Linked DNA regions of Homo sapiens. The protein of the gene in region 2 purifies or fractionates together with the protein of the main gene of each other region. This does not show direct contact. Each region holds a gene or a part of one and is shown on either strand. Other genes may lie near its edges. The genes, in order: TBC1D22A, CLEC4C, ATP8B2, PCSK9, SLC25A30, ENTPD6 and BRF1.

What was found.
Region 1: the proteins of CLEC4C (region 2) and TBC1D22A purify together in Homo sapiens (co-immunoprecipitation; one large-scale study listed by IntAct). This does not show direct contact.
Region 3: the proteins of CLEC4C (region 2) and ATP8B2 purify together in Homo sapiens (affinity purification with mass spectrometry; one large-scale study listed by BioGRID and IntAct). This does not show direct contact.
Region 4: the proteins of CLEC4C (region 2) and PCSK9 purify together in Homo sapiens (affinity purification with mass spectrometry; one large-scale study listed by BioGRID and IntAct). This does not show direct contact.
Region 5: the proteins of CLEC4C (region 2) and SLC25A30 purify together in Homo sapiens (affinity purification with mass spectrometry; one large-scale study listed by BioGRID and IntAct). This does not show direct contact.
Region 6: the proteins of CLEC4C (region 2) and ENTPD6 purify together in Homo sapiens (co-immunoprecipitation; one large-scale study listed by IntAct). This does not show direct contact.
Region 7: the proteins of CLEC4C (region 2) and BRF1 purify together in Homo sapiens (affinity purification with mass spectrometry; one large-scale study listed by BioGRID and IntAct). This does not show direct contact.

The regions. Positions count from the first base shown.
Region 1 is NC_000022.11:46,765,650-46,769,149, forward strand, and holds part of TBC1D22A (TBC1 domain family member 22A), read left to right. Parts: intron 1-2,398; exon of another isoform or gene 2,399-2,528; intron 2,529-3,500. UniProt on the Homo sapiens protein: May act as a GTPase-activating protein for Rab family protein(s).
Region 2 is NC_000012.12:7,744,576-7,748,827, reverse strand, and holds the start of CLEC4C (C-type lectin domain family 4 member C), read left to right. Parts: upstream 1-1,452; 5' UTR 1,453-1,479; coding exon 1,480-1,510; intron 1,511-2,404; coding exon 2,405-2,497; intron 2,498-4,252. UniProt on the Homo sapiens protein: Lectin-type cell surface receptor which may play a role in antigen capturing by dendritic cells. Specifically recognizes non-sialylated galactose-terminated biantennary glycans containing the trisaccharide epitope Gal(beta1-3/4)GlcNAc(beta1-2)Man.
Region 3 is NC_000001.11:154,324,329-154,328,324, reverse strand, and holds the start of ATP8B2 (phospholipid-transporting ATPase ID), read right to left. Parts: upstream 2,801-3,996; 5' UTR 2,623-2,800; intron 579-2,622; exon of another isoform or gene 464-578; intron 221-463; 5' UTR 184-220; coding exon 153-183; intron 1-152. Other genes in the region: AQP10 (aquaporin-10), read right to left, coding at 3,845-3,996. UniProt on the Homo sapiens protein: Catalytic component of P4-ATPase flippase complex, which catalyzes the hydrolysis of ATP coupled to the transport of phosphatidylcholine (PC) from the outer to the inner leaflet of the plasma membrane.
Region 4 is NC_000001.11:55,046,048-55,049,547, reverse strand, and holds part of PCSK9 (proprotein convertase subtilisin/kexin type 9 isoform 1 preproprotein), read right to left. Parts: intron 3,026-3,500; coding exon 2,902-3,025; intron 1-2,901.
Region 5 is NC_000013.11:45,401,374-45,404,873, forward strand, and holds part of SLC25A30 (kidney mitochondrial carrier protein 1), read right to left. Parts: intron 3,040-3,500; coding exon 2,954-3,039; intron 998-2,953; coding exon 902-997; intron 1-901. UniProt on the Homo sapiens protein: Antiporter that transports inorganic anions (sulfate, sulfite, thiosulfate and phosphate) and, to a lesser extent, a variety of dicarboxylates (e.g. malonate, malate and citramalate) and, even more so, aspartate.
Region 6 is NC_000020.11:25,194,483-25,198,511, reverse strand, and holds the start of ENTPD6 (ectonucleoside triphosphate diphosphohydrolase 6), read right to left. Parts: upstream 2,801-4,029; 5' UTR 2,648-2,800; coding exon of another isoform or gene 2,645-2,647; intron 2,540-2,644; exon of another isoform or gene 2,303-2,539; coding exon of another isoform or gene 2,258-2,302; intron 1,890-2,257; exon of another isoform or gene 1,620-1,889; intron 1,408-1,619; exon of another isoform or gene 1,286-1,407; intron 1-1,285. UniProt on the Homo sapiens protein: Catalyzes the hydrolysis of nucleoside triphosphates and diphosphates in a calcium- or magnesium-dependent manner.
Region 7 is NC_000014.9:105,291,002-105,294,501, forward strand, and holds part of BRF1 (transcription factor IIIB 90 kDa subunit), read right to left. Parts: intron 1-3,500.

The DNA.
Region 1 (3,500 bases), on a different chromosome or scaffold from region 2:
AGAGATGGGGTTTCGCCATGTCGGCCAGGCTAGTCTCGAACTCCTGACCTCAGGTGATCCATCCACCTCAGCCTCCCAAAGTGCTGGGATTATAGGCGTGAGCCTCCATGCCTGGCCTTGTTTTCCTCCTTTTTTTTTTTTTTTTTCTGAGACAAGAGTCTCTCTCTGTAGTCCAGGCTGGAGTGCAGTGGCATGATCTCAGCTCACTGCTACCTCCACCTCCTGGGTCCCGGTTGAAGCAGTTCTCCTGCCTCAGCCTCCTGAGTAGATGGGATTATAGGCACTGGCCACCACGCCCAGCTAATTTATGTGTGTGTGTGTGTGTGTGTGTGTGTGTGTGTGTGTGTGTGTGTGTGTATTTTTTTTGAGACGGAGTCTCACTCTGTTGTCCAGGCTGGAGTGCAGTGGTGCGATCTCGGCTCACTGCAAGCTCCGCCTCCCGGGTTCACGCCATTTTCCTGCCTCAGCCTCCCGAGTAGCTGGGACTACAGGCGCCTGCCACCACACCTGGCTAATTTTTTATATTTTTGGTAGAGACGGGGTTTCACCGTGCTAGCCAGGATAGTCTCGATCTCCTGACCTTGTGATCCTCCTGCCTCGGTCTCCCAACGTGCTGGGATTACAGGCTTGAGCCACTGTGCCCGGCAATTTTTGTATTTTTAGTAGAGATGGGGTTTCACCATGTTGGCCAGGCTGGTCTTGAACTCCTGATCATGTGATCCACCAGCTTCAGCCTCCCAAAGTTCTGGGATTACAGGCGTGAGCCACCACACCCAGCCTTGTTTTCCTCTTTGTTTTTGAGTGCAGCCCTCATCTCAAGGAAACTCAGGAGGAAGACTACACCCACTGTACAATACAAGACTAGTAAGGGATCTTTCAGATAGTTCAACTCTTTTTTATTTTTGAGATGGAGTCTCGCTCTGTCGCCCAGACTGGAGTGCAGTGGTGTGATCTAGACTCACTGCAATCACTGCCTCCCGGGTTCAAGTGATCTTCCTGCCTCTGCTGCCAAAGTAACTGGGATTACAGGCGCCCACCACCATGCCCAGCTAATTTTTTTGTATTTTTAGTAGAGATGTGGTTTCAACATGTTGGTGTGGATGGTCTCGATCTCTTGACCTCATGATCCGCCCGCCTTGGCCTCCCCAAGTGCTGAGATTCCAGGCATGAGCCACCGTGCCCGGCCCACACCTCCTGTTTTTATGCAGCCTGAACTAAAGTCCCCCTTTTTTGCATCAAACTCAGTGTTGTTGGTGCCTCTGGCTTCCTGTTCTCCCTGGTATGTGCTTGCTTTCACTAGTGAGATCCACAGGTTTAGGAAAAGTATCTTTCTCATTCTTGCATTGTCAGTACCGATACCTGGTGTTTATTCCGAACTATCTCCTCGATTAGCCTGGAGAGTGAGTGGTTTGGCCAGGGCTATAAACTGCAGGAGAGGTGGTCTTGCTGGTAGACCCTCGGTTTATGCACACCCTGGTCCTTAGGTTGCATATGTGGCTGACGCTTTCCTAGAAACTTTGTTTCTGGATGAGCCAGGATGTGTGGTGTGGTAGATAGACCCTCCTAGTCAGAGGACTAGGAGTTGGTGGTCCAGATTTTAACTTTCTTTTTCCGGTAGTGGTCTTCACCAAGTTACCTCTGGGGCCATCAGTGTCTGTATCTGTAGCACAAAGCGGTTGAGTTTGGTTTAAGTAGCTATGGCAAATGGGGAGATATCTTTGGCTTAGCACGATTCTCTTTGAGGAGAAAAGAATGGGCTTCTTGGACCAGTTTTGAGAATTTGATGATTTGCTGATCCAGCAAATATGTATTCAACCCATAGTATGTGTTAGGAACAGCCCCAGGTGCTGGAGATAATATTAGTGAACAAAATAGACCTAGATCTCTGCTCTCCCAGAGCTTACAGTGCAGTGGGAGAGCCGGGTATAAATAACATAGCTCAGTTAAATGGAGTTAACTGTTGGAAGGTGACAGCTGCTATCAAAACAATGCTGGGAAAGAGGACTAGGTGGCTTAGTGGCAGGTGTGGTGGTGAGAAGGAGCCCTTCACTGAGGTGACATTTGAGGAAAGATTTGCACGAGGTGAGGGAACAGGCCAACCAGGAGGCTGGGGAAGAGCGGTCCTGGCAGAGGAGTGAGCAGGTGCAGAGGACTCCCAGAGCGATGCTGGCGTGCTTGAGGAGAGGAGCTGGGGCCAGGGTGGGTCTGGCCGAGAGAAGGGGAGAGTCGTGGGGTGCGTCATGAAAGGTGGTGGGGTAGGGCCTCATGACCACAGTGAAGACATGGACTGTTCTTTGATTCTGGCTGAATGGGGAACCTTTGGAGGGCTTTGAGCAGAGAAGTGGCATGGTCTGCATTAGGTTTAATGGGATATCTTTGGCTGCTGTACTGAAGACAGATTGGAGGCGTTGGGAGTCGGGGCAAGGGCAGAAGCAGGGAGACCAGGAGGCCAGGGTGCCGCAGCGTCCAGTGGTCACTGGTGGTGGCGGCTTGCACCTGAGTGGAAGCTGTGGTGGTGGCAAGAAATGGTAAGTGATAAGAATCCGAAGGTTTGGCCGGGCGCGGTGGCTCACGCCGGTAATCCCAGCACTTTGGGAGGCTGAGGTGGGTGGATCACTTGAGGTCAGGAGTTTGAGACCAGCCTGGCCAACATGGTGAAACCCCGTCTCTACTAAAAATACAAAAGTTAGCCAGGCGTGGTGGCAGGCGCCTGTAATCCCAGCTGCTTGGGAGGCTGAGGCAGGAGAGTCGCTTGAACACAGGAGGCAGAGGTTGCAGTGAGCCAAGGTCGCGCCACCGCCCCGCAGCCTGGGCAACAGAGCGAGACTCTGTCTCAAAAAAAAAAAAAAAAAAAAAAAAATAGAATCTGAAGGTTCAGTCTCTGACTGTCTGGGCTGGTTCTTTCCCGGGCCGCTGACTCTCTTGGCTCCCGAAGGGCTGTTGCTTTCCGCAGTTGCAGTTGGAATTCTCGCCACACTTCACTTTAAAAATGCCAAGACAAAATCACAGCACACTGGGCTTGAGAACACAGGCAGTCTTTCAGTGTGGGTCTGATGTTTGCTATTTTAGCTCAGCTCCGCCTGGCAGGGTGTGGTCTGCTGACAGAGGGTATGCAGGCAGCTGGGGTATGTGGAGTATGACGTTTGAAAGTGGCATGGTGGTGGCTGGGCGCTCTGGCTCATGCCTGTCATCTCAGCACTTTGGGGGGCCCAGGCGGGTGGATCACCTGAGGTCAGCAGTTCGAGACCAGCCTGACCAACATGGTGAAACCCCGTCTCTACTAAAAATACAAAAAATAGCTGGACATTGTGGCAGGCATCTATAATCCCAGCTACTCAGGAGGCTGAAGCAGGAGAATCATTTGAATCTGGGAGGTGGAGGTTGCAGTGAGCTGAGATCGCGTCACTGCACTCTAGCCTGGGCGACAGGGCAAGACTCTGTCTCAAAAAAAAAAAAAAAAAAAAAAAGAAAGTGTTATGGTAGCAAGAAAGGCCCAAATT
Region 2 (4,252 bases):
ATAATTTGTTCTATTTTAAATTATTTTTCTCATTTTTGCCTTTGCTCCTTTCTTCTCAGCATTGTATACTCAAAGGAATACCCTCATACTCTACATTTTAATCCAAGACAGAGGAAAGCAACAGGGAGAACCCCTGAGGCAGGGGCAGAGGGAGGTTCAGGGAACTGTAAATGGGAGGTAGACAAGAGACCAAACAGGACTTTAAGTTGTTTCAGCAAGTATACAGCTTAGAAAGGATCTCATTGGTCTGGGTCCTAAAATATCTCAAAGGATGGCTGCTAACTCAAAACTTTTTTTTTTTTGAGACTGAGTCTTGCTCTGTCACCCAGGGTGGAGTGCAGTGGCACGATCTCGGCTCACTGTAAGCTCCGCCTCCCGGGTTCAAGCAATTTTCCTGCCTCAGCCTCCTGAGTAGCTGGGACTACAGGCATGCACCACCACACCTGGCTAATTTTTGTATTTTTAGTAGAAACGGGGTTTCACCATGTTGGCCAGGATGGTCTCGATCTCTTGACCTCGTGATCCGCCCACCTCAGCTTCCCAAAGTGCTGGGATTATAGGCATGAGCCACCGTGCCCAGCTCAAAACTTTTTTCTCACTACTCTACAATTAAATCTCAGTTGAACTCTGGGAAGATTCTGGAATACCTAGGTTCTTTCTTTCTCAGTGTCTATTTCACCAGTAGTTGTAACCATCCTTCAACCAAACATCTCCATTTGAGTAGCATAGGCTATAATGGATTTTCTCTATTTAAGATTACTCAGCAGTGGCCGGGCACGTGGTGGCTCACAACGGTAACCCCAGGACTTTGGGAGGCTGTATTAGTCCGTTTTCATACTGCTGATAAAGACATACCTGAGACTGGGCAATTTACAAATGAAAGAGGCTTTTTTTTTTTTTTTTTTGGAGATGGAGTTTTGCTCTTGTTGCCCAGGCTGGAGTGCAACGGCAGGAGGTCAGGAGTTCGAGACAAGCCTGGCCAGTATGATGAAACCCTGTCACTACTAAAAATACAAAAATTAGCTGGGCATGGTGGCACATGCCTGTAGTCCCAGCTGCTCGGGAGGCTGAGGCAGGAGAATCGCTTGAACCCGCGAGGCAGAGGTAGTAGTGAGCTGAGATTGCACCACTATACTCCAGCCTGGGTGGCAGAGTGAGACCCTGTCTAGAAAAAAAAAAAAAAAAAAAAAAAAAAGACAATCAGACCTGCAACCATGAACTGTTTTTCATGTATTTCTCGATTTCCTTGTTTGTGTTTCCTTATTTCTGAACATGATGTATGTTTTAAATTGAAAGCTTTAGCTCACTGCAGAGTCTCCTAAGTCACATCTCTTCCTTTGCAAGAGTAGGCGAAGAAGGATCTAAGGGCTTGGCTTGTTTGAAAGAACCACACCCCGAAAGTAACATCTTTGGAGAAAGTGATACAAGAGCTTCTGCACCCACCTGATAGAGGAAGTCCAAAGGGTGTGCGCACACACAATGGTGCCTGAAGAAGAGCCTCAAGACCGAGGTAAGCACTCATCTTCTCAGTTCTAGGGAAGGTAGTAGGAGCAGGATGGAGTGGGAAACAGGCATTGAGGTGATAGGGATGACTTTGGAAGAAGAAGTAGACAGCTTTTCATAAATAATAGTAATTTCAGTATGGAAACAGGTATGGACCCAAGATACTTGGATCAGGGAAAGATGAAAGAAAAAAAGAAAGGCCGGGCGGGCGCGGTGGCTCACGCCTGTAATCCAGCACTTTGGGAGGCCGAGGTGGGCAGAGCACCTGAGGTCAGGAGTTCGAGACCAGCCTGACCAACATGGAGAAACCCTGTCTCTACTAAAAATAGAAAATTAGCCAGGCGTGGTGGCACATGCCTGTAATCCCAGCTACTTGGGAGGCTGAGGCAGGAGAATCACTTGAACCTGGGAGGCGGAGGTTGCAGTGAGCCGAGATCGTGCCATTGCACTCCAGCCTGGGCAACAGGAGTGAAACTCCATCTCAAAAAAAAGAAAAAAAGAAAAACAACTCGGGCCTAGAAGGCCTTAAAGGAATATGAATTTGGCCAGGCATGCAGGCAAATGCCTAAAGTCCCAGCTACTCAGAGGTTGAGGCAGGAGGACCACTTAAGCCTGGAAGTTTGAGGCCAAGGCTGTGCAATTCAAGGGAAAAGAGAGTAAGGAATTGGAAAGTACAGTTTACTCTGAGAGTTTTGCCTGGATTTGTCTTGGGTTCCAGGGTACTATCTGGTCATTTGTTCTGAGATAATTTCTATAATCTCTTTTTGCTTTCACATTTTTTCTGTTTTAATTAGTTTTGATCATAGCCTGACTTTATTATTCTAAGATTTTTGGGACTCTGGTTTCCTGGCTCTTTGGCAGTGGGGATTATGACTGTGCATTTGTCATGCTGATCTGACAGAGAAAGGACTCTGGTGGTTCCAGTTGAAGGTCTGGTCCATGGCAGTCGTATCCATCTTGCTCCTCAGTGTCTGTTTCACTGTGAGTTCTGTGGGTAAGTTCTTGGCTGGAGTGCAGTCATCTCTTGGTCCTTTTCCCAATCACATTTTATCAATTTCCTGAAGAAACACGTTCCTCTTTCTTTTTTTTTCTTTTTTTTTTTTTTTTTTTTGAGACGGAATCTCGCTCTGTCGCCCAGGATGGAGTGCAGTGGCGTGATCTCGGCTCACTGCAAGCTCACCTCCCGGGTTCATGCCATTCGCCTGCCTCAGCCTCCCGAGTAGCTGGGACTACAGGTGCCCGCCACCATGCCTGGCTAATTTTTTGTATTTTTAGTAGAGACGGGTTTTCACTGTGTTAGCCAGGGTGGTTTCGATCTCCTGACCTCGTGATCCGCCCACCTTGGCCTCCCAAAGTGCTGGGATTACAGGTGTGAGCCACCGCGCCCGGCCACGTTCCCCTTTCTTGACATAAAATGGCAACCCTAACTGAGAAGGCTATGTTTCTAATAAAATGAGTTATTACTATTATTAATTATTCTGGATAATTGTGTGTACTTCCAGGTTTCTTTGCCTGGTTTTAGTTGCATTTTTCAAATGTGATCATAACTGTCTTGGTCAGCTTGGGCTGCCATAACAAAATACCATAGACTGGGCCAGGCGTGGTAGCTCATGCCTGTAATCCCAGCACTTCGGGAGGCCAAGGCAGGCAGATCACCTGAGGTCAGGAGTTCAAGACCAGCTTGGACCATATAGTGAAACCCTGTCTCTACTAAAAATACAAAAATTAGCTGGGTGCAGTGACTCGCGCCTGTAATCCCAGCTACTTGGGAGGCTGAGGCAGGAGACTCAGTTGAACCCAGGAGGCAGAGGTTGCAGTGAGCCGAGATCACGCCACTGCACTCCAGCCTGGGTGACAGAGTGAGACTCTGTCTCAAAAAAAAAAAAAAAAAAAAAAAAAAGCATAGACTGAGTGAGTTAAAAAACAGATATTTATTTTCTGATGGTTCTGGAGGCTGGAAGTCTGACATGAGGATGTCAGGATGGTTGGGTATGGTGAGGTCCCTCTTCCTGGCTTACAGCTGATGCCCTCTTGCTGTGTCCTCACATGATGGAGGGAGTGCTAGCTCGTCACGGTTTCTTCTTATAAGAGCATTCATCTCACCATGAGAGCCCCCCCTCATAACCTCATCTAAACCTGATTTCCTCCCAAAGCCCCTATCTTCAAATACCACAAATTGGAGCTTGGGACTTCCATATATGAACTTGGGGAGGACGCAATTCATTCTATAACAATAACTCCACTTTGATGGGTGTGCTGATGGTGGGTACCATCTAGTTGATCTGCTCCTTTGTTTTAAAAAAGTCTCTATTGGGAACATAACTATTATTCTTTCTATGATGCTATAATTGTATTACTGTGGGGTTTTAATCTTCATGTGAGATTCTTCCCAACATGACAGGAAAAATTGTTCATATGGCCAGGCAGTGGCTCACACCTGTGAGCACTTTGGGAGGCTCAGGTGGGAGGATCGCTTGAGGACAGGAGTTCAAGACCAGCCTGGGCAACAGAATGAGACCCTGTCTCCATAAAAAATAAAAAATATAACTTGGCATGGTGGCATGTGCCTGTGGTCCCAGCTACTCAGGAGGTTGAGGCAGGAGGATCGCTTGAGCCCAGGAAGTTGAGGCTGCAGTGAGCCATAATCGTACCACTGCAATCCAGCCTGGGCGACAGAGAGACCCTGTCTCAAAAAATAAAAATAAAAATAAATGTTTATACAGTGATACAATGGAAAAATAAACAAAGT
Region 3 (3,996 bases), on a different chromosome or scaffold from region 2:
GGTTTCCTAGGCTGCCCCCAAGCTGGGTAGGGGCTGCTGTAAGCTACCCTCCCTCAGACCCATACCAGTTGTCCCTTTTCCTTTTGCTCCCTGAGCCATAACAACACCCACTCTTGATGGTTCCCGGGATCTCCCCTCCTTGCCTGTCTTACCTGGGGGGCGCTTTTTTGCACACACTGCCATCTCACCCAGCAAGATCCCAGCAATCCCATGGGAGACCCTGCAAGAAGTGACAGACGAATGAGGTCAGGAAGCTGAGGATAACCCTTCCCTCCCCTCATGAGACCTCTTTTGAAGACCCTCTTCTCCAGCTCTGACCCTGCCCCTCCCCCAGCCTCCTTCTCCCAGTCTCTCCTCTTACTGCCATGATGGGTTCCTGGGAAAGAGGGGACTTCCCCACCACCTCCCATCATGCCCCTGCCTTGGGTGACATGGGGGGCTGAGACTTTACAGAAGCCCATGCCTGTAGGGAAAGGAGAAGAGGCCAGATATTGAAAAAAGGGGAACAGCTCTCAAGGTATCCATCCCAGGGACAATGGAGGCTCTCATGTGTTCTGGCGGCAATGAGTAGTGCTTGTGCTTACTAGAAAGCAGTTTCCCCAAAGGGTGGGGTGGAGGGAACATGAGCCAGGAAACACCTGGCAGGGCATCAGGAAACAGGGTGGGCAGGCTCCACCCTTCTCGAAAGGCTTATAAGTTCCCTGCCATCCCCACCCCCCATTACTAGGGCTTCCATTATCACCTCCTCCAGGGGAGCTCACATTAGAGGCATGGCCCTCACTTTCTGCACAGACAGTCCCTAAACAGCTTCCCCTCAGCCTGGGTCAGCCACCCTTCTGGGCTGGCAGAGGGGTCTTCCCAACCCTGGTGGGGAGTTTGCCCCTCCCTCCCTCCCACCCCAAGCCTAGTCCAGTCAGTATGGCACAGGGTGCAGGCTTAGGGAGCACCAGTGAGACAAGCCTCTGCCTGCTTCCGCCTTCCCATGTCCTTTCTCCTAAAAGGTTCAAGGCCTGGCCTTACAAGGCAGAGCCTCATCCTTACTCCCCAGCCTGGCCCAAAGGAAACTGCCAGTCAGTCACCTCCTCTTTCCTTGTCTGGGTGGAAGGCCTTTCACCTCCTCATCCTCTTTGGTTCCCTCTGCCTTTAGCCTACCAGGCACACCCCACCAACCTGTCAGCCCCAAGAGATACTAATTGCCTGTCTGGCTAAGCTCTATAATTACAGATTCTGGCCACAACCCAGTCACCCACACCAGTTCTCCCTTCGCTAGCTCAGATCCCGCCCTTACACCAAGTCAGGCAATCCTGAAAGCCAGAAGTCCTTTTCATCCCTGACCTTCTCCAACTATGGCAGTCCAGGGTGCCTGGCTCAGGAAGAAAAACCTCATCCATATTTTAGAGATGCCAAGCCCTCCTCCAGGGCCCCCAGCCAGGGTCTCCACCCAGTCTGAGTATGAGTCACGGGAGGGTGGGGAGCACAGGGAGAGGTTAAAGGATGCAAGAGTGGGCATCACAAGTTCTACAGGCAGCCCCGCCCTTGGGGAGGAAGGGATCAAGAAACACTATCAGCCTAAACATCTGAGTTTGAGTCCCATGAAAGAGTTAATGTAGGAGCTGCACACGCCATCAGGAGTCAGGAGTCTGGATATGGACCAGGAAAGTTGTTCTACCTCTGAGACCCTGGGGAGACTGGAAGCAGGCTTGGCCCCAGACCTCATCCCCTCTGGGGGGGCCATCATTCCAAGGGGAAGAGAGGAGAGACCTGGGAACTGGGATCCCCTCTCACTTTTCCTTCTTAGTCTCACACAGCCTGGGTTTTCTGAGCAGGTCAGGCCCATCAGCCACGTTGCCCTGCCCCGTCACCCAGCCCCAGCCCCCTCTCGGCCACATTTGGGATAAAAATAGCCAGCCCCGGCAAGCAGGCAATGCTCCATGGAGGAAAACAGCTCCTCCTATAGGTCCGGTCCCTGCTCCCTTACAAGCAAGAGCCCCAAAGGCTGGCCACTTCTTTCAGAGGAGGATGGCAGGTCAGGGAAACAGGAGGAAATGGAACTCGAGACCTCCAGCTCACTGGCCACCAACACGAGCTCGGGCCACCTTCCCTCACCAAGGACAGAACTCAGGGCTCCCGGCACAGCTATCATCTCCCAGAGCTACTGCCCCTTCCTGACACCCTCAGTTTTCCTCAGGCATAGACCTCCACCTTACTGAGACAAAGCCTACCAGCCCAAACTCCCTTCTCCAGGCACCAAACCCTCGGGTCCCGGTTACTCCTCTCGCCCAACAACTCTCTGGGCGGGTCTCCCCTGGCCAAGGCTGCACGAGCTTCTCCTTGGCACTCGCGCCGCTCTCCTGCTCTCCACGCGCCCCTTCGGCACCCCATCCTCCCATCCTGTACGCAGACCCCCGCTCTGCCCCGTCCCCGGGAACCCGACAGCCCCTCGTCTCCAGTCGGCCGCCATCCCCGCCCCGTCTGGCCGCAGCTCCCAAATCTTGGCCCCCGGTGCTCCCCAGTCTACACCCGCTCCCCGGCCCCTCCAGCCCCGCGGCTGCGGCCGCATCTCCCTCTGCCCTCCTGGCCCCGCGCTCCCGGGCGCCCCCGCTTCGCCTCGCCTCGCCTCACCTCAGCGCTCAGCGCTCGGCGCCCGCCCCGGCGGCCCCGTACTGCCCATGCCGGGGGCTGGGGCGGGGGGCGCTCGGCTCGGCTCCCCACGGGCTCCCGCCCCCCCAGCTGCGGCCCCGCTCCCCCGGGGCCTCGGCCCGCTACTTTGTGTCAGTTTCGGCCACGGCGGGGCGGAAGTGACGGAGCCGGCGGCGGGGGCCGGGGGGCGGGAGGGGGTTTTGGGGAGGGGAGAAGGAGCGGGGAGGAGGGAGCAGCCATCTTTGTGCGGGGCAGTGGGAGGGTCTTAGCCCTTCCGAGCCTCGGCGTGGCTGGGCTGGGATGCCCCCACACGTACGTCCATCCGCATCTTAAAAGAAAAAACAATTCGGGAGGCTAGATCGCTCTGAGGGGGTATTTTTAATTCGGAAGAAGGGAATAGAGGAACACTGCCTTCTCTGCAAAACGAGCATCCTCTGCAGGGAGCGGCAGGAGAGCTGTAGAAGTGGTGAATAACCAGAATTTTCCCTGGCGCCAGGTTGCCCTCAGCCCGACTCTCGCTCCTCGGAGCCGCCCGCCCTCCGTTCCTTCACCCTCCCTCCTCGCCCTGGCTCATTTCACTGTATCTCAACTCTCCTTGAATGAACGACACAGCACCGAGATGTCTAGGAACGGTGCCTCAGTTTCACAGCCTTGCTCTCTGTCTCTGTGCCCCGCCGCCCTCCTTCCCTCCGCCCCCACCACGCCCCCTGGGTGGAGGCGGCTTCCCCACCCCTAACTACCCTCTTGGGGAGGCATCCCCGAGAGGGTGAAGGTGGGAGGCGCCGAGGCGATGAGAGCTAGGAGTCGGCAGTCGGGACAGGCTATGGAGGGCAGTCCCCAGGGTTGTGCCCTACACTGGATGGTGGCCCCCTCCACCCTGCAGATGCCCGCAGCCGTCCCCATCCAGCATCCAGGTGCGCACCCTCTAGCGGTTACCTCGAGCAACTACATTCCGAGAGGCCCTGAGGGTCAGAAAACCGCTTTGCGGGAGGAGGGGATGAGAAGCCTGAGTCCTGGTACCTTATCCTCCTCCACTTCTCCCTGTCCAGGATCCTTCTTAGTTTAGGAGGAAGGGATGCCAAACAGATAAACAGAGAAGCCTCCCAGGTTCTGGCACATTAACAAAGAGGAAGAATGACTGTTGTTCCCAGGCGGGGTCAGTGGCTGGCTCCAGGGTCCATGAGTGAAGTGAGGGTTGTCCTAATCATAGCTTACACTCCAGCATCTGAGCTGAGGCAGGAGTTTCCAACTCTGAGGCTTTGTGTTGAGCAGACACCAGATCCTGAGCTGGCTCTGGGCCCTCAGGGTGGTGCAGAGCCACCAACAGCTGGTAAGTGGCTGTGCCAACGGTGGCCC
Region 4 (3,500 bases), on a different chromosome or scaffold from region 2:
GTGACAGCGTGGCAAGGTGGCCTCAAGAAGAGCCACCACTCTCAGGGGCAAAGAGGCCTTGGAGTGGCCTCTTCCAGCCTCTGGAAAGCTCTGTGGCCTCTGGCAGGTGAGAGCCCAGTCCTGCTTGCATACCTCCAGAGCAGGGAGCTCATTCCCTCTCACCAGGCAGCCCTGCCATACGCCTGAGAAGCTCAGACTGTGGCCAAGTTCTTCCTTTCACATCTGACCTGGAGGCCACCCAGGCCCTCCTGGTCTCACCAGCCTCGGTCCCTTCTGCACAGGCCACACTCCCTCCTGCCTCACAGCTTCAATCCACGTTCATTCCACTGCTTGGACACCGTCCCCTTTGCCTGGTTAATAATGCCCCCGTAGGTCTTGGCTAGAACAGCGCTTCCTCCAGGAATCCTTTCCTGATCCTTCTGCTGGATACACAGGCTCGCAGCTGCCTGCACTCCTTCAGAGCTCTCAGCCTATCCAGAACTAATCTGTGTCAAGTAGCATTTGTTTAAGGAATGGATTAATCTTCTGGATACACTGTTGGGGGAAGAGACCACATTCATTTCATTCACATTTGTATCCCCAGCACCTAATATGGTGCCTGGCGCACAGTGGGTGCTCAAAACGTTATTATTGAATGGTAAGAAAAGAAAAATGCAGGGCTAAAATCACAGCACCTCACTCAATACCTGACAGAGAAATGCATGCTACAGCAATAACTGATTTAACCCTCCAAACAGCCCCCCAGAGTGAGGGTTATCATTACCTCCCTTTTGCAGAGGAACCTGAAGATCAGAGAGGGTGAGTGACGTATGCAAGGTCACACAGTTAAGAGTGCAGGGTCTGGGTTTGAGGGCGGCAGCCAGCTCTAGGGCCCATGCTTGTGGCCTCCCCATGAATGAAGAAGCTGCTGCTGGGCCCAGCCAGCCTGCCCCATGCCAGCCCAACAGCTCCAGGAGGACTTCCTCCAGCCAAGCCCTTGATATGACTCCAGAAGGGGTTCCACACCCCTGCCTGCCATTCCTGCCACCTCCCACAGACACTCGGGGGAAGCGGGAAGGGGGGCAATCCATGGGCATCCTATGGGGAAGAAAGGGCCCCACGTCTGCTTCTGGCCCAAGGGAGAGGAGGGAACAGTGGCTGCCAAAGAGATACACTCACATCCTAACCCCCACAACCTGTGGCTGTGACCTTATTTGGAAAAAGGGTCCTTGCAGATGTGGTTAAGGTTCCCCACATGAGATCATCCTGGAGGATCCAGTGGGCCCTAAATCCAATGACAAGTGTCCTTATGAGACAATGAAGAGGAGAGAGACACAGAGAAGGCTGTGTGAAGACAGAGGCTGGGATTGGTGTGCTGCCGCTGTTGGGACACGGAAGAGGCAAGAGAAGCTTCTCCCTGGAGCCCCCCGGGAGAAAGTGGTCCTGCCGACACTGATTCAGGCTTCTGGCCTCCAGGACTGCAGAGAATCAACTTGTTCCAACCGAGGGGGTGGTAATTTGTCACAGCAGTGCTAGGAAACTAACTTAGGGGGCAAGATCTTCTCAGTCCCTGCCTGGACTGGGGTCTCTGTGATCCTCTGCCAGTGTCCCTCTTGGTCTCTGATATTAGCCTGCTCCGGGAGGTCCCTGAGGCACTGATGTGGAGTACAGGGGGCTCCAGGGCTCCACTGAAGAGGTCTCACCTGGTTGGAAAGGAACAGGCTCTTCCTACAGAGGAGCTGTCCTCTCCCTGGCCACAGGCTGCCCAGGCCGGGTCAGCACACATGACCGACCAGGCCCCTCACTTCTGCTGCTGCCACCCTTGCCAGAGGATGTCCCCCACACAAACCCTTTCTCCACACCCAGCCCACCAGCTCTGATCTGTTGCAATGGCAGCAACTCAGACATATGCAAGGTCACACAGTTTGGGTGTATGCAAAGTCACACAGTAGCCCCCCAACTTTTCACTTCCAAAAGCATCTGCACATCCTTCAACTCATTGGAGTCTCACAGCAACCTGTGAGAAGGACAGGGACAGGGTTATGTGCCCATTTTACAGACAAGAACGACAAAGCTCATAGAAGAAAGTGGCTTCCCAAGATCCCACGAGAACCGGTAAGGGGTGAAAGCTGAGTTCACCCCAAGCTCTGCGTCCTGGCACCATGTTGCATGGACCCACCACATTGCATCATCTCTGCGCTGAGCTCCAGACCTCACACCATGGGCACCTCAAACTTAACACAGTCCAACTAGAACCCTTCATTCTCTCCTCAGGCCAGGTGCATCTAGAGTCTTCCCCGACTGAATTGCCACCTGCAAGTCCCTGCTAGAATGCAGACCGTTTTCCATGGCCGCTCCTCCTCCCTCCCTTCCATAGCCAGGCCACACCAGGCAGAGGGAACAGTGGAAAGAAAGGCCTAGAGGGAAGACACAAAGTGGCCCAGGCAGGGAGCCCCAGGAAGCCAAACGGAGCTGGAGGCAGGTGGAGCAGCAAAACAGGAAGGTAGGCAGAGGCATCCCAGACAGGGTTGTGTCTATCCCATTAAAGGATCTGGTCCAGTCTGCAGGGCACTGGGAGTTATAGAGGCCTGGGGGCCCTAGGTAGAGTCACCATCAGATGAACCCTCCTTCCAAGGTAAGTGCAGCCTGCTGGGCCATTCCAAATGGTGAGAAAAGGAAAACAAGAGAAAAGAAGGAAAAGAGGATCATTTAAGGCAAGACTTTTGCATTTGTGGGGCAACAGGAAGGCAGGCAGTGGGGGCTGCAGGGGATGGGGATGGGACAGAAAAAAAGGGGTCAGTGGAGGTGCTGAGTCCCAAAGCCCCCCGAGAAGTGGAAACCACCAGCAGGGAGGCCAGGCCAGGGCAGAGCAAATGGATTCAGCTCAGATGGGGTGGGGCAGGGCACAGATGGGGGTCTTACCGGGGGGCTGGTATTCATCCGCCCGGTACCGTGGAGGGGTAATCCGCTCCAGGTTCCACGGGATGCTCTGGGCAAAGACAGAGGAGTCCTCCTCGATGTAGTCGACATGGGGCAACTTCAAGGCCTGCAGAAGCCAGAGAGGCCGGGGGACTCTGCTTAAGCCATTTGGACAGCAGCAAACACAGCCACAGCCTGGCCTTACCTGATCAAACCTGTCCCCACATCCCAGCCCAGCAGCCTCCCACCTTGTCCCTGCTAGTGCCCCGGAGGACAGACTAGGAGCCTGAGTTTTCTCGCTCCTTGATCAGGCTGGGAGCCCAGCACTCCCATATCCCTGCAACACGGTCTGGCATAGAGGATTCCTTTTAGGAAGGATTCTGAACTTGACATCTTGTCTGGGAGCCAGGCTGTGCCAAGGCTCTGGGCAGGATGGACATGGAGTGAAGCTCAGGCCCTGGACTCCATGCCTAAATCATGACATAACAGCACTGGCAATTCGGTTTGTCCCCTAGTCTATTCTCCAGCCTTCTCCAGCCTGCTCAGTGCAAACTGCAGCACCAGCTCCCTTGCAAAGCTTCCAGTTGGGCTCAGCCAATGGG
Region 5 (3,500 bases), on a different chromosome or scaffold from region 2:
TCAAAAACTCTGAAGTCTAATTCTGATGCTGGCATTAACTATATGACCTTGGGCCAGACTTTGGCCAGGACAAGTCACCTCTCAGAGCCTCCAGTTTCCTTCTATGAACTGAGAGATCACACTGGATGATCTTTAGGGGCTATTCTATGAACTGACAAGTCATTAGAATACTAGGAAATAACACTCTACACCACATGCTTGCCTAATAACACAGACTTCAGTTACAAGCCATGAAATTGTATGGATCAAAACACCCAATGGAACTGTAACCTAAAATCCTTCTCCATAAGAATTTAAAAAAAAAAAAAGAGCAAAAGACCAAACAACAACAAAAAAAGTGCTTATCCTTCACACAATATCTTATACATAAATTATTCAAAAGCAACTTTAAAAATCATGACATAGGCCAGGCGCAATGCCTCACAACTGTAATCCCGGCACTTTGGGAGGCCGAGGCAGGCAGATCACCTGAGGTCAGGAGTTCGAGACCAGCCTGACCAACATGGTGAAACCCCATCTCTACTAAAAATACAAAAATTAGCGGGGTGTGGTGGCGCACGCCTGTAATCCCAGTTACTCAGGAGGCTGAGGCAGGAGAATCACTTGAACTCAGGAGGTGGAGGTTGCAGTGAGCCAAGATCGTGCCATTGCACTCCAGCCTGAGCAACAGGGCAAGACTCCATCTCAAAAAAAAAAAAAAAAAAAAAAATCATGACATATTCCTTATATTCCCATTTTATAGATAGGGAAATAAAGAAAGATATTTTCATGGGCAGAAGATGCCACTCCTCTTCCCTTACTCCATTACGACACTTGGATTAAAATTAAGTGATAGAACAAGTAAATTCAAAAAAGGAAAAAAGAACTAAATAAATCAGTTCGATCCATCCTTCTGGCTTACCTTCCACAGTCCTCTTGTCCCCTCTTGCTGGTAAATGTTCATGAAGTTGCCTATCATTCCTCCTTGAATGGTGTTGCTTTGCGCTTGCATCCGAATCTAGAGATTATTTTAAAGACCAACATCAGAAAGAAACTACCACAATCCCACCCACAACCAATGTATACCTCTGACAGTCAGTCCGTCAGTCAGTTGCTTAATAACCATTAGCAAGGAAAAAACTGTCATATAAATACTGCTATGATGCTACCTTAAAATGACTAAAACGTATAAAAATTTATTCTTAGGAACTCTGAGATCTCCAAAAAGCATCTAAGAGAGTCCAGAGTCCTACGTACAGCAGTTCATTAAATGTCAAAAGGAGAAACTGATTTTTGTGAAAAAAGTCTTTCTAGGATAGAAAACAGCATACTTCCCTACTACTATATAGGTGAGAGAAAAGTTAATTTCAAAGGTTTAATCTAATTAATGAGTTATCCAGTGTACCTGGCAGCACGAAGCACAGGCAAGCATAGTTCTTAAATTAGCTGCTCCAAGCCACTACAGTCTCCAGCCAGCTGAACCAAAAGGTATGCAGGCGAGCTAGCCAAGTGACAGCCACATGATACCTGTTACACTCTGTTACACTTTAATTAGTGGAATCCACATGACCAAGATTCCAACATAAAAAGAATGTTTGATGTAGCTCTTTGCATTTTTAAGAATGAAGAAAGATTTTTTACTACAAAATGTGTACCTTATTTTTGTTTAGGGAGCAAATACGTTACCACTAACTTCTAAAAGAACTGTTATTGCCACACGAACGTGGGAAAATAAACCAAGATACAGGAACTGCCTTCCCATAAGGCCTAAGATATAATTAAGAAATTAATGAGAGTACGAATATTTTTCTCTAGCTCTCTTACCCCAACACTGGTAAACTTATGGCAAAGGTACCTTGTATTTCTTCCTTACCCACGAGGTCCCTTTGCTACAATGCATATATAACTGTAGTGTACCCAGAATACTGCAGATGGCTGTAATGCTTGTCAGAATCCCCTATTAGATTGAAGGCTCTCTGAGGGCAGGGTCCTTGTCTTACTCATATTTGGATTCTAACCATGGCGTATACCAACTGGTACAAGATAGAAGCATAGAATACTAGTTAAATAGTGGGGCAGAAAAAGAAAAGAGGGGAAGTAGGAAAGGAATACTCTGTGGGGTTCAAAAAGTAAGTCATTCCTAATTTTTATTTTATTTAATTAGTTGCTTCCAAAAAAGGATTTAAAGATGCTCTATCCCTAGTATTTTCAATAAGGTCTCCTAATGTGTTATGTAATCTAATTGTAGTAATTAAATTTTTTCATCTGTATTTCCTGAAATAAAATTTAACAAAGAAGATGCAGGCCAGGCACGGTGGCTCACACCTGTAATCCCAGCACTTTGGGAGGCCAAGGCGGGTGGATCATGAGGTCAGGAGTTCAAGACCAGCCTGGCCAAGATGGTGAAACCCCATCTCTACTAAAAATACAAAAATTAGCTAGGCACGGTGGCAGGTGCCTGTAATCCCAGCTACTCAGGAGGCTAAGGCAGGAGAATCGCTTGAACCCAGCAGGGTGGAGGTTGCAGTGAGTTGACATCGTGCCACTGCACTCCAGCCTGGGCGACAGAGTGAGACTCCATCTCAAAAAAAAAAAAAAAAAAGATGGATTCAAAAATAGTCATTAATGAGCAGCCTAGATCTGTGCAAAACTTGCAGTCCATCTATATTTAATGAACCAATAAAACAAGGAACATTTTCCGTGAAAAACGAAAATGAAATGCAGTCCAAGCCTAAATAATTTTTTCTCCTCAATCACCGAAATCTTTGTCTCCAAAATGAGCTCTGCTTTTGAGCTCATCTGTATAAGTGGAAAACCCACCTCATGGACCTTTAAAAGTTAGTCTTCATGGCACTTAAATTATAAACAGATTCACATATACACAGATGTTACATTCACAGATTCCATTACCCGAATGTTGTTCTCAATAAGAAAATGTGGAATGTGCCTATAAGATATAGATAGCACAGCTTACTTTCAAAACATCAGTTGGATTAGCAATGGTTGAAGATATGACTCCAGACAGAATTCCACATATCACATTTATCGGTAGAGTTTCATCTGTAAACAATGACACATTATTTGACTCTACATATTTAGAGTTCTTCCCGTGAGAAACTCAACTATAGGTCTAACTTATTTACACATTACTTGTTCACCTTAAGATGTAAAAACATATGCTTCAGGCCGGGCATGGTAGCTCACATCTGTAATCCCAGCACTTTGGGATACCAAGGTGGGGAGATCACTTGAGGTCAGGAGTTTGAGACCAGCCTGGCCAACATGGTGAAACCCCGTCTCTACTAAAAATACAAAAATTAGCTGGACATGGTGGCAGCTGCCTGTAATCCCAGCTACTTGGAGGCTGAGGCAGGAGAATCACTTGAACACAGAAGGTGCAGGTTGCAGTGAACCAAGACCACGCCACTGTACTCCAGCCTGGGCAACAGACCAAGACGCCATCTCAAAAAAATAAAAGTATGTTTCATGAATCAAGTAATTTTAAAAGGATTAGAAATTTC
Region 6 (4,029 bases), on a different chromosome or scaffold from region 2:
TCTTTATGTAATCAAGACTTTTTTTTTTTTGAGACAGAGTCTCACTCTCTCACCTATCACCTAGGCTGGAGTGAAGTAGCACAATCTCAGCTTACTGCAACCTCTGCCTCCCAGGTTAAGCAATTCTCCTGCCTCAGCCTCCCAAGTACCTGAGATTACAGGCATGCACCACCACGCCCAGCTAATTTTTGTATTTTTAGTACAGACGGTATTTCACCATGTTGGCCAGGCTGGTCTCGAACTCCTGACCTCAAATGATCTGCCCACCTCGGCCTCCCAAAGTGCTGAAATTACAGGTGTGAGACACCGCACCTGGCCCATAATCAAATCTTATCATGTCCTATGTTAGTCTAAGAACCATATTCTACATGATCAGATTCACAGGTGGTATATTAAATCTAGAGGCAAAGTTGCTCCTTATTTACTGTCTACCCATTTAAAAAAACCCTTTATGTGCCATGCCCTGTGTCCAGCACCCCACAAAGCCTGCCTCACAGCCCTGGGTTTCCCTAAGACAGCACCAAGGCCCTGGGAATGTGTGTAAACGGAACTGTCTGAGATTGCAGTCAGTGTGTGGTGGAGCACACAAGAGTCCCTGGCTTCAGTCCCCAAATTGAACGTGCTTTATCACGACTTTAGAGATCCAAAAAACACTCACATACATAGACATACCTTACATAGACATAATTACTGAAGTTACACACCAAGTTCAGGAAGACAAAAGCAAGAGTCCAACTAGAACACAGTACTGAGAGAGCACAGAACCAGGAACAGCCTTGCTCTTGCACAAGGGTGGGAAGAAGAGTTCTTATAATCATGTTCACCATCCCCTCTCCCCAAGGAACAGGTCATCTCCATGTACCTGTGTCCCAGATCTAAACAGCAATTTCATTCCACTAGGTTAAGGTGTTTGCCCATGGCTGAGACACCTGCCGGAGAGGAAATGGGGTTTCTGTGGGAACCACTAACACCACAGCGTGAATGTGTTGATCAGGTTCTCCCTGACAGACTCTTTGAGGAAAACAATGCCATCTCAGTCTGTTCTTTAAAGGAGAGACAGGGTGGGATGAGGCTGTAAGGAAGGTAGCGGGTGGGGACTGAGGGAAGGCAGGGGTAGGAAGTAGGGTGCACACAGGCAAACAGAGAGGTGTGGCTCCTGCTGAGGCCACCCTCCAGCAGGTGGAGGCAGGAGTCAGAGAAGAGAATCTGAGGGTAGAGCAGTGTTGTTGGTGGTAGGAGCTACCCTGTCCCCTGGTTGGCTTTCTAGATGGGGATGGCAGGTCACCTCTTGGAAATACAGGGGCCATCTGATGTGGATTGATGGCTGCCTAATCTGTTGGCCAGTTTCTTCAGGTTTTCAGTTCAAGTACACGGAAGGGTCATGAATGCAAATGCCTGCCATGCACGCTGTATCAAAAAATGAAGCACATTAGAAACTTCCACTCATCCTCCTGGTGGGTTTCAGTAGGTTTTTCTCTCCTTGGCAAAAACCGGTGCGTGAACCGCCCGTCAACACCACCTGCTGTTTCCTTTACACAGGAGGCGGTGGGAGGGGAGGCGCTTCCAGATCTCCTGACACAAAGGGCTGCCCACCTCCCTGGTCCTTTACCCGAACCTTCAGGAGGCAGACGACACACACACTAGCCAGCCACTCTCTCCAAGGCAAGGGGAGGGGGACAAAAAGCAATTTTGAGATTTGTACAGTGCTTGCCAGGTCCTTCAAAAATGACTACCGGCCGCCCATGGCTCTTGCACAGCGGGTGGGAGGAAGAGTCCTTGTAATCCACCTCTCCCAAGGAACTCCTGCGCGAGGTTTCAGATTCCCCGCCTGCAGGCTATGGCTGACTTCCCCGTATCCTGTGTGACGTGGGATGTGTGGCTTCGCGCAGGTAAGGCTGGAATACAGGTGCCTGGAGGGACACCCAGAGCTGCCCAGGCACTTCCCGGCGGCTGCTTCCTTTGCACTTTGCACTTACAGGTGCACTTATAATAAAAACACCCTCCCTTCCACGCTCCCCTGGGCCCTCCCATCTCTCCTTCCTCTTCCACGCTCTCCTGGCTGTTGAATGTTTTCCACTGAAGGAGTCTAGTCTGTCCACCTAGGGGGCTCTCCCTCCCTCGGTCCAGGGCATTCGCGGCTCACAGGTCAGCTCGGGCAGAACCGCCCTGACCACCTATGAGCTCCTCGGGACACCACCCCAATGCCAGGGTGAATCGTCCTTACACCCTCAGTCCTGTCCGAGCGGCCTGATCCTACCTGTTTCCCAGAAACTGCTACGCGAAGCTTCCCCGCCGGGCTCATCCAGGGCGGAGGGGTCTGTCCCTGACGCAGACTGGGGGCGGGTCCGCAAAAGCGGGCTGAATGAATGAACGCAGCAGGGCTGGGGCCCCCTGGGGCTACAGGCCCCTGCTATTTGGCCCGCCCTGTGGCCCAAAACACTGGACTTGCCCCCCACCGGTCAGCGGAGCCCAGACATCCAGGGAGCCCTAATGGAGCCTGGACAGGAAGGCAGCAGGAGGTGGGACCCGGGGTGCGAGTGACCCCGAGGCCGTCCTCCGGAGCGCAGCGCGCCCGCGTGGGGGAGGCCCGCCTACAGTCGGTGATCCCCGGCCGCCCCCGCCAGCGCCCCGGCCCGCCGCTTACCATGCACCGCGCGCTCCGCCACACCCACGGAGACGAGTGCCCTTTTCCGGGGAGCAGGCGGCAGCCGGTCTTTTGGGCTCCCCCGCCCCGGCCGGCGCCACCCCGGCCTCCACCCGCGGGATACGACCCCACGATTCCCTAGGGCCTGGGCTCCGCCCCATGCACGTGGCGTCACAGGCTGGGCGGGGGGGCGCACCCAGCCGCGCATGCGCAGGCGGGAGAGGAGGTGGGGGTCGGGGGACCCAGTTGCGCAGGCGCGGGCGGAGTATGGGTGCTCAGCTGCGTAGGCGCGATGGCCTTCTTTTCTTTCTGCAGGTGGCCTTGCGGTTTTCTCCAGTCCACAGCCGGGCTGGCGTCGGCCCAGAGAGGGGGGCTCGGCAGTCTGGTTCCCCGAGCGTCTCATGGCGGGCCCTCGCCAGATTCAAGGGGTTCCCTTGGCCAGTTTCCTTACGGCGCGGCGGAGCTGGCCCTCGTCGTCCCTGGTAGGGGGCAGCCTCACAGCCTGGACCGGCCTGTGCAATTTCCCCCATCCCTCCACGTCTACATTTTATTTTTTTCTTTTTCTTTTTTTAGGACAATGCATGATGGAAATGCAGCCACATCATAGCAGGCAGGTTCATGAAATCTGCCCTCCTCCCACCGTTTCTTGACCCCATTTTCTTATTTTTTTTTTTAACAGGTTCTCACCCAGGCTGGAGTGCAGTGATGTGGTCTCAGCTCACTGCAACCTCTGCCTCCCGGGTTCAAGCGATTCTGTTGCCTCAGCTTCCTGAGTAGCTGGGATTACAGGTGTGCGCCACCACGCCTGGCTAATTTTTGTACCTTTAGTAGTGACGAGGTTTCGCCCTGTTGGTCAGGCTGGTCTCGAACTCCTGACCTAAGGTGATCCGCCTGCCTCGGCCTCCCAAAGTGCTGGGTCTATAGGCATAAGCCACCACACCCGGCCCTTGACCCCATTTTCTGTCTTCCTAGAAATCACCAAGGTTGCAACTCCTGACTGTCCTGGCTCACAGGCTCCAGCTTACTTAAGGACCCCACGGTGGGGGCTGCCCACTTGCACACCTATGCTAGGCGCCCTCATTCCCGCAAGGGCCAGAGCCCCTTCCCGGCCCATGGCGTCTGGCCAAGGAGGTGTGGGTGCGCCCCAGCCAGGCCTGGTCCTAGAGGACGGCCCCACCTGCGCACTGGGGCATCTGGGAGAGCTATTAGTGGAAGAAGCCCAGGTTCCTGAAGCACCAAGTGGGCAAGAGTTTATTTTCAGGATGGGACGCTTTTGAGGGTGAATAAGTGCTAGCTGTATGGGATGCGGGGACAGTACACAGGCCCGGCCTGGCAGCCGGGCAATGCGGTGCCTGTTGGAAGGTCGCCCACAAGCACCTGGTTGG
Region 7 (3,500 bases), on a different chromosome or scaffold from region 2:
GAAACTGCCAGGATGCCCTCTACTTCTAAAAACATTTGGTATTTTCCATAGCGTGTTTCTATAACAAAAAATATGTGCTAGTTCCCGTTAGCTGGAACTGACATGTGGAAGGGGCCAGGTCTTGTGGGGCCTGGCCAAGACTGCCCCCCTGTGTACAGCAAGGGAGGACCTGCGGTTCCACCAGAGCCAGAGCAGGGCCAGAGGCCGCAGGGGCACCTCTGAGCTCCGACAAAGCCAGCAACACCCCATACCGCCGAACAGACAGAAAGGCGGGCCAGGGGCCCTCCATGTCCTGAAAGACCCAGCACAGCACTGTCCATTTCACACCAGGATTCTTCCAACATGAGAAAGCAATAACCTTTAATATTCACGTGCTCATTCAACTTAACTGGGGGCGGGCTCAGTGGCTCATGACAGTAATCTCGGCATTTTGGGAGGCCGATGTGGGTGGGTCACTTGAGGTCAGAAGTTCAAGACCAGCCTGGCCAACAGGGCGAAACCCCGTCTCTACTAAAACATACAAAAAAAAAATTAGCCAGGCATGGTGGTGTGCTCCTGTAGTCCCAGCTACTCGGGAGGCTGAGGCAGGAGAACTGCTTGAACCCAGGAGATGGAGGTTGCAGTGAGCCAAGACTCTGTCAAAAAAAAATTTTTTTTTAACTGGAGACTTTCTGTTGCTGCTGTGAAACTTCCTTTTTTTAAGAGACAGGGTCTGGCCGGGCGTGGTGGCTCACGCCTGTAATCCCAGCACCTTCGGAGGCCAAGGCGGGTGGATCACCTGAGGTCAGGAGTTTGAGACCAGCCTGGCCAACATGGCGAAACCCCGTCTCTACTAAAAACACAAAAATTAGCCGGGCATGGTGGCACATGCCTGTAATACCAGCTACTTGGGAGGCTGAGGCAGGAAAATCGCTTGAACCCGGGAGGCGGAGGCTGCAGTGAGATGAGATTGCGCCATTGCACTCCAGCCTGGGCAACAAGAGAGACACTCCATCTCAAAAAGAAAAAAAAAGAAGTCTCACTCTGTCACCCAGGCTAAAGCGCAGGGGCACCATCACGGCTCACTGCAGCCTCAACCTCTCGGACTCAAGGAATCCTCCCACCTCAGCCTCCCAAATAGGCGGGACCACAGACATGCGCCACCACGCCTAGCTAATGTTTTCTTATTTTTTGTTTTCTTTGTTTGTTTTTTTGAAGACAAGACAGAGTTTCGCTCCTGTCGCCCAGGCTGGAGTGTAATGGCACGATCTTGGCTCACTGCAACCTCCACCTCCCGGGTTCAAGCGATTCTCATGCCTCAGTCTCCCAAGTAGCTGGGATTACAGGCGCCCACCACCATGCCCAGCTAATTTTTGTATTTTGGGGTTTTTTCTTGTTTTGTTTTTTTAGTTTTTGTAGAGACAGTTTCACTATGTTGCCCACGCTGGTCTCAAACTCTTGACCTCAAGTGATCCTCCCACCTTGGTTTCCCAAAATCCTGGGATTACAAGCATGAGCTACCAAACCTGACTGGAAACTTCTTTTAAGGGGAGACACCTGTAGGAGGCCTGGCTGGCTGGGCAGTAATGGATGGAGAGGAATTCAGGGGTCCCACAGGTGAGTGCCCAAAGGAGGCTGGACCAGACCGCAGTGCATCCCTGAGAGCTGGGGACGGGGACCCGGGAACACAGAGCGTGTGCCTACTGGTGGGGCTGGATGCAGTAGCATCAGACATCTGGGAGGAGCACTGACAAACAGGGCCAAGCACGGCAGCCCACACCCCTTCCCAGGCGCAGACCCTTCCCATGCGCACACCCCTTCCCAGGCACAGACCCTTCCCAGGAGCAACCCTTTCCCAGGCCCACACCCCTTCCCCAGGCCCACATCCCCTCCCCAGGTCCAGACCCCTTCCCAAGCCCAGGCCCCTTCCCCAGGCCACTGCGGAGGAGCTGGTTTTGTAGTGATTACAATTTGGTTACGGAAAACAGGACGTGTGTCACGCTGCAGGCTAACCAGCAGCTTCCTCCCTCACCCAGATGGCAACGGGACAGAATTCACCCGTTTCCTAAGAGCAGGCACCTTCAGCCACAACTTAGGGTTCTGGGGGTCATGGAGCAGAGGCAGAAGCCTGGAGCCTTCCACCCTCAGGACTAGAGCCCCGCCAGGAGGCCAGGCGCATGCTCAGAACCCCAGGCCGCAGGGAGAGGCTGGCCGGTCACATCCTTCTCTGAGGCAGAGGGAGCTTCCCAGCAGGCGAGGGCAACTCCACCACCCATGTCCCCCTCCAGGGCCAGCGCCAGGTGACATGCAGCCATGTCACAAATTAGGTCCGGCTGCATCGTGACCCCAAACGGAAAACAGCAGCACTCACGGACACCCCAGCTTCGAAGTTCTAACTGTGAAGCCACTGAAAGTTGTGATTACGGGAAACGCTCCCCACCCCCACAAGTTCTGGTGACACTGAGGTGTGCTGCTCCTTGCACAGGACGAGGAGGGACCCCTGCAAGCAGGAGCCCAGGATGTCTGGTGTGTGGGCGCCATCACCATCACCTGCTGGCAGAGGGAAGCCTCAGGGCACACACAGTGCAGGACACTGATGTGGGCTCACAGGGAAGCCCCGCCTTGCCTCAGTGGAGCAGACGGCCTCCTCAGGGCACTGCCAACGGCCCCCAACTCCACCGTCTGCCTGGCCCCTCCAGCCACGCTGAGCCTCAGTCCTCACCCACCCTTCTCTCTGCACAGTCTCTGCTCGGGTGCCCCGGGACGCTGGAGCACCAGTGTGGTTTCCCCCGTGGGGCCTGGCTTCCAAGGTCAGGACCCTCTGGGGACTCTCCTGAGGCCTCTGGTCACCTGCCCTGATGCCTTAGTTAAATATTCCAGAGTAAACTGCGAAGCTGTATCAGGCTTAGTTCTCAATTAATAGGCAAAACACCTAGGAAAGACAGTGGCCTTGGGACTAGAAAACGACAGCTCAGAGAGAAAGCTCAGCTTTCAAGATGAAGCTGGAGGAAGGGGCGGCTGGGGCCTACTTGTGTGCCAGGGAAACTGAGAAGCCACCAAGGTTTCCAGCCCCCTGTGATCACCACTGTGACGAGGGAGGAAGGATGCCAAGTGGGCACCTAGAGAGCCTGCCTGGGAGACAGAGGGGCTGCCCAGAGCAACAGATCCCCTCTCTCCTCCCCACTCTCGGCCCAGGCACCACCTGCGCCGGTCCCCAGGGGCTAAGAACCCGCCGCCTCGCAGCACTTCCCCCAGGACCACCACAGTTGGTTGCTGGGCCTGCGCCTCCCTCCAGAGAGTGTGCCTGGGCTCAGAGGCGTCTTGGGGCCACCTGACAGCGCTGGCTCTGAGCTTGTTCTGACAGCACCCGGGTGACAGACTTCCAGCTCTGCACTGCTCCACACCACCATCCTCCCCCGGCAGGGCACAGTGAGGGCAGTGCGCTGTCACCAGGCCCGGATGCACTTAACACTGTGCCTGCCCGGGAAACCCTGCGTCTGCTGCCATGACAACTTGCTTTC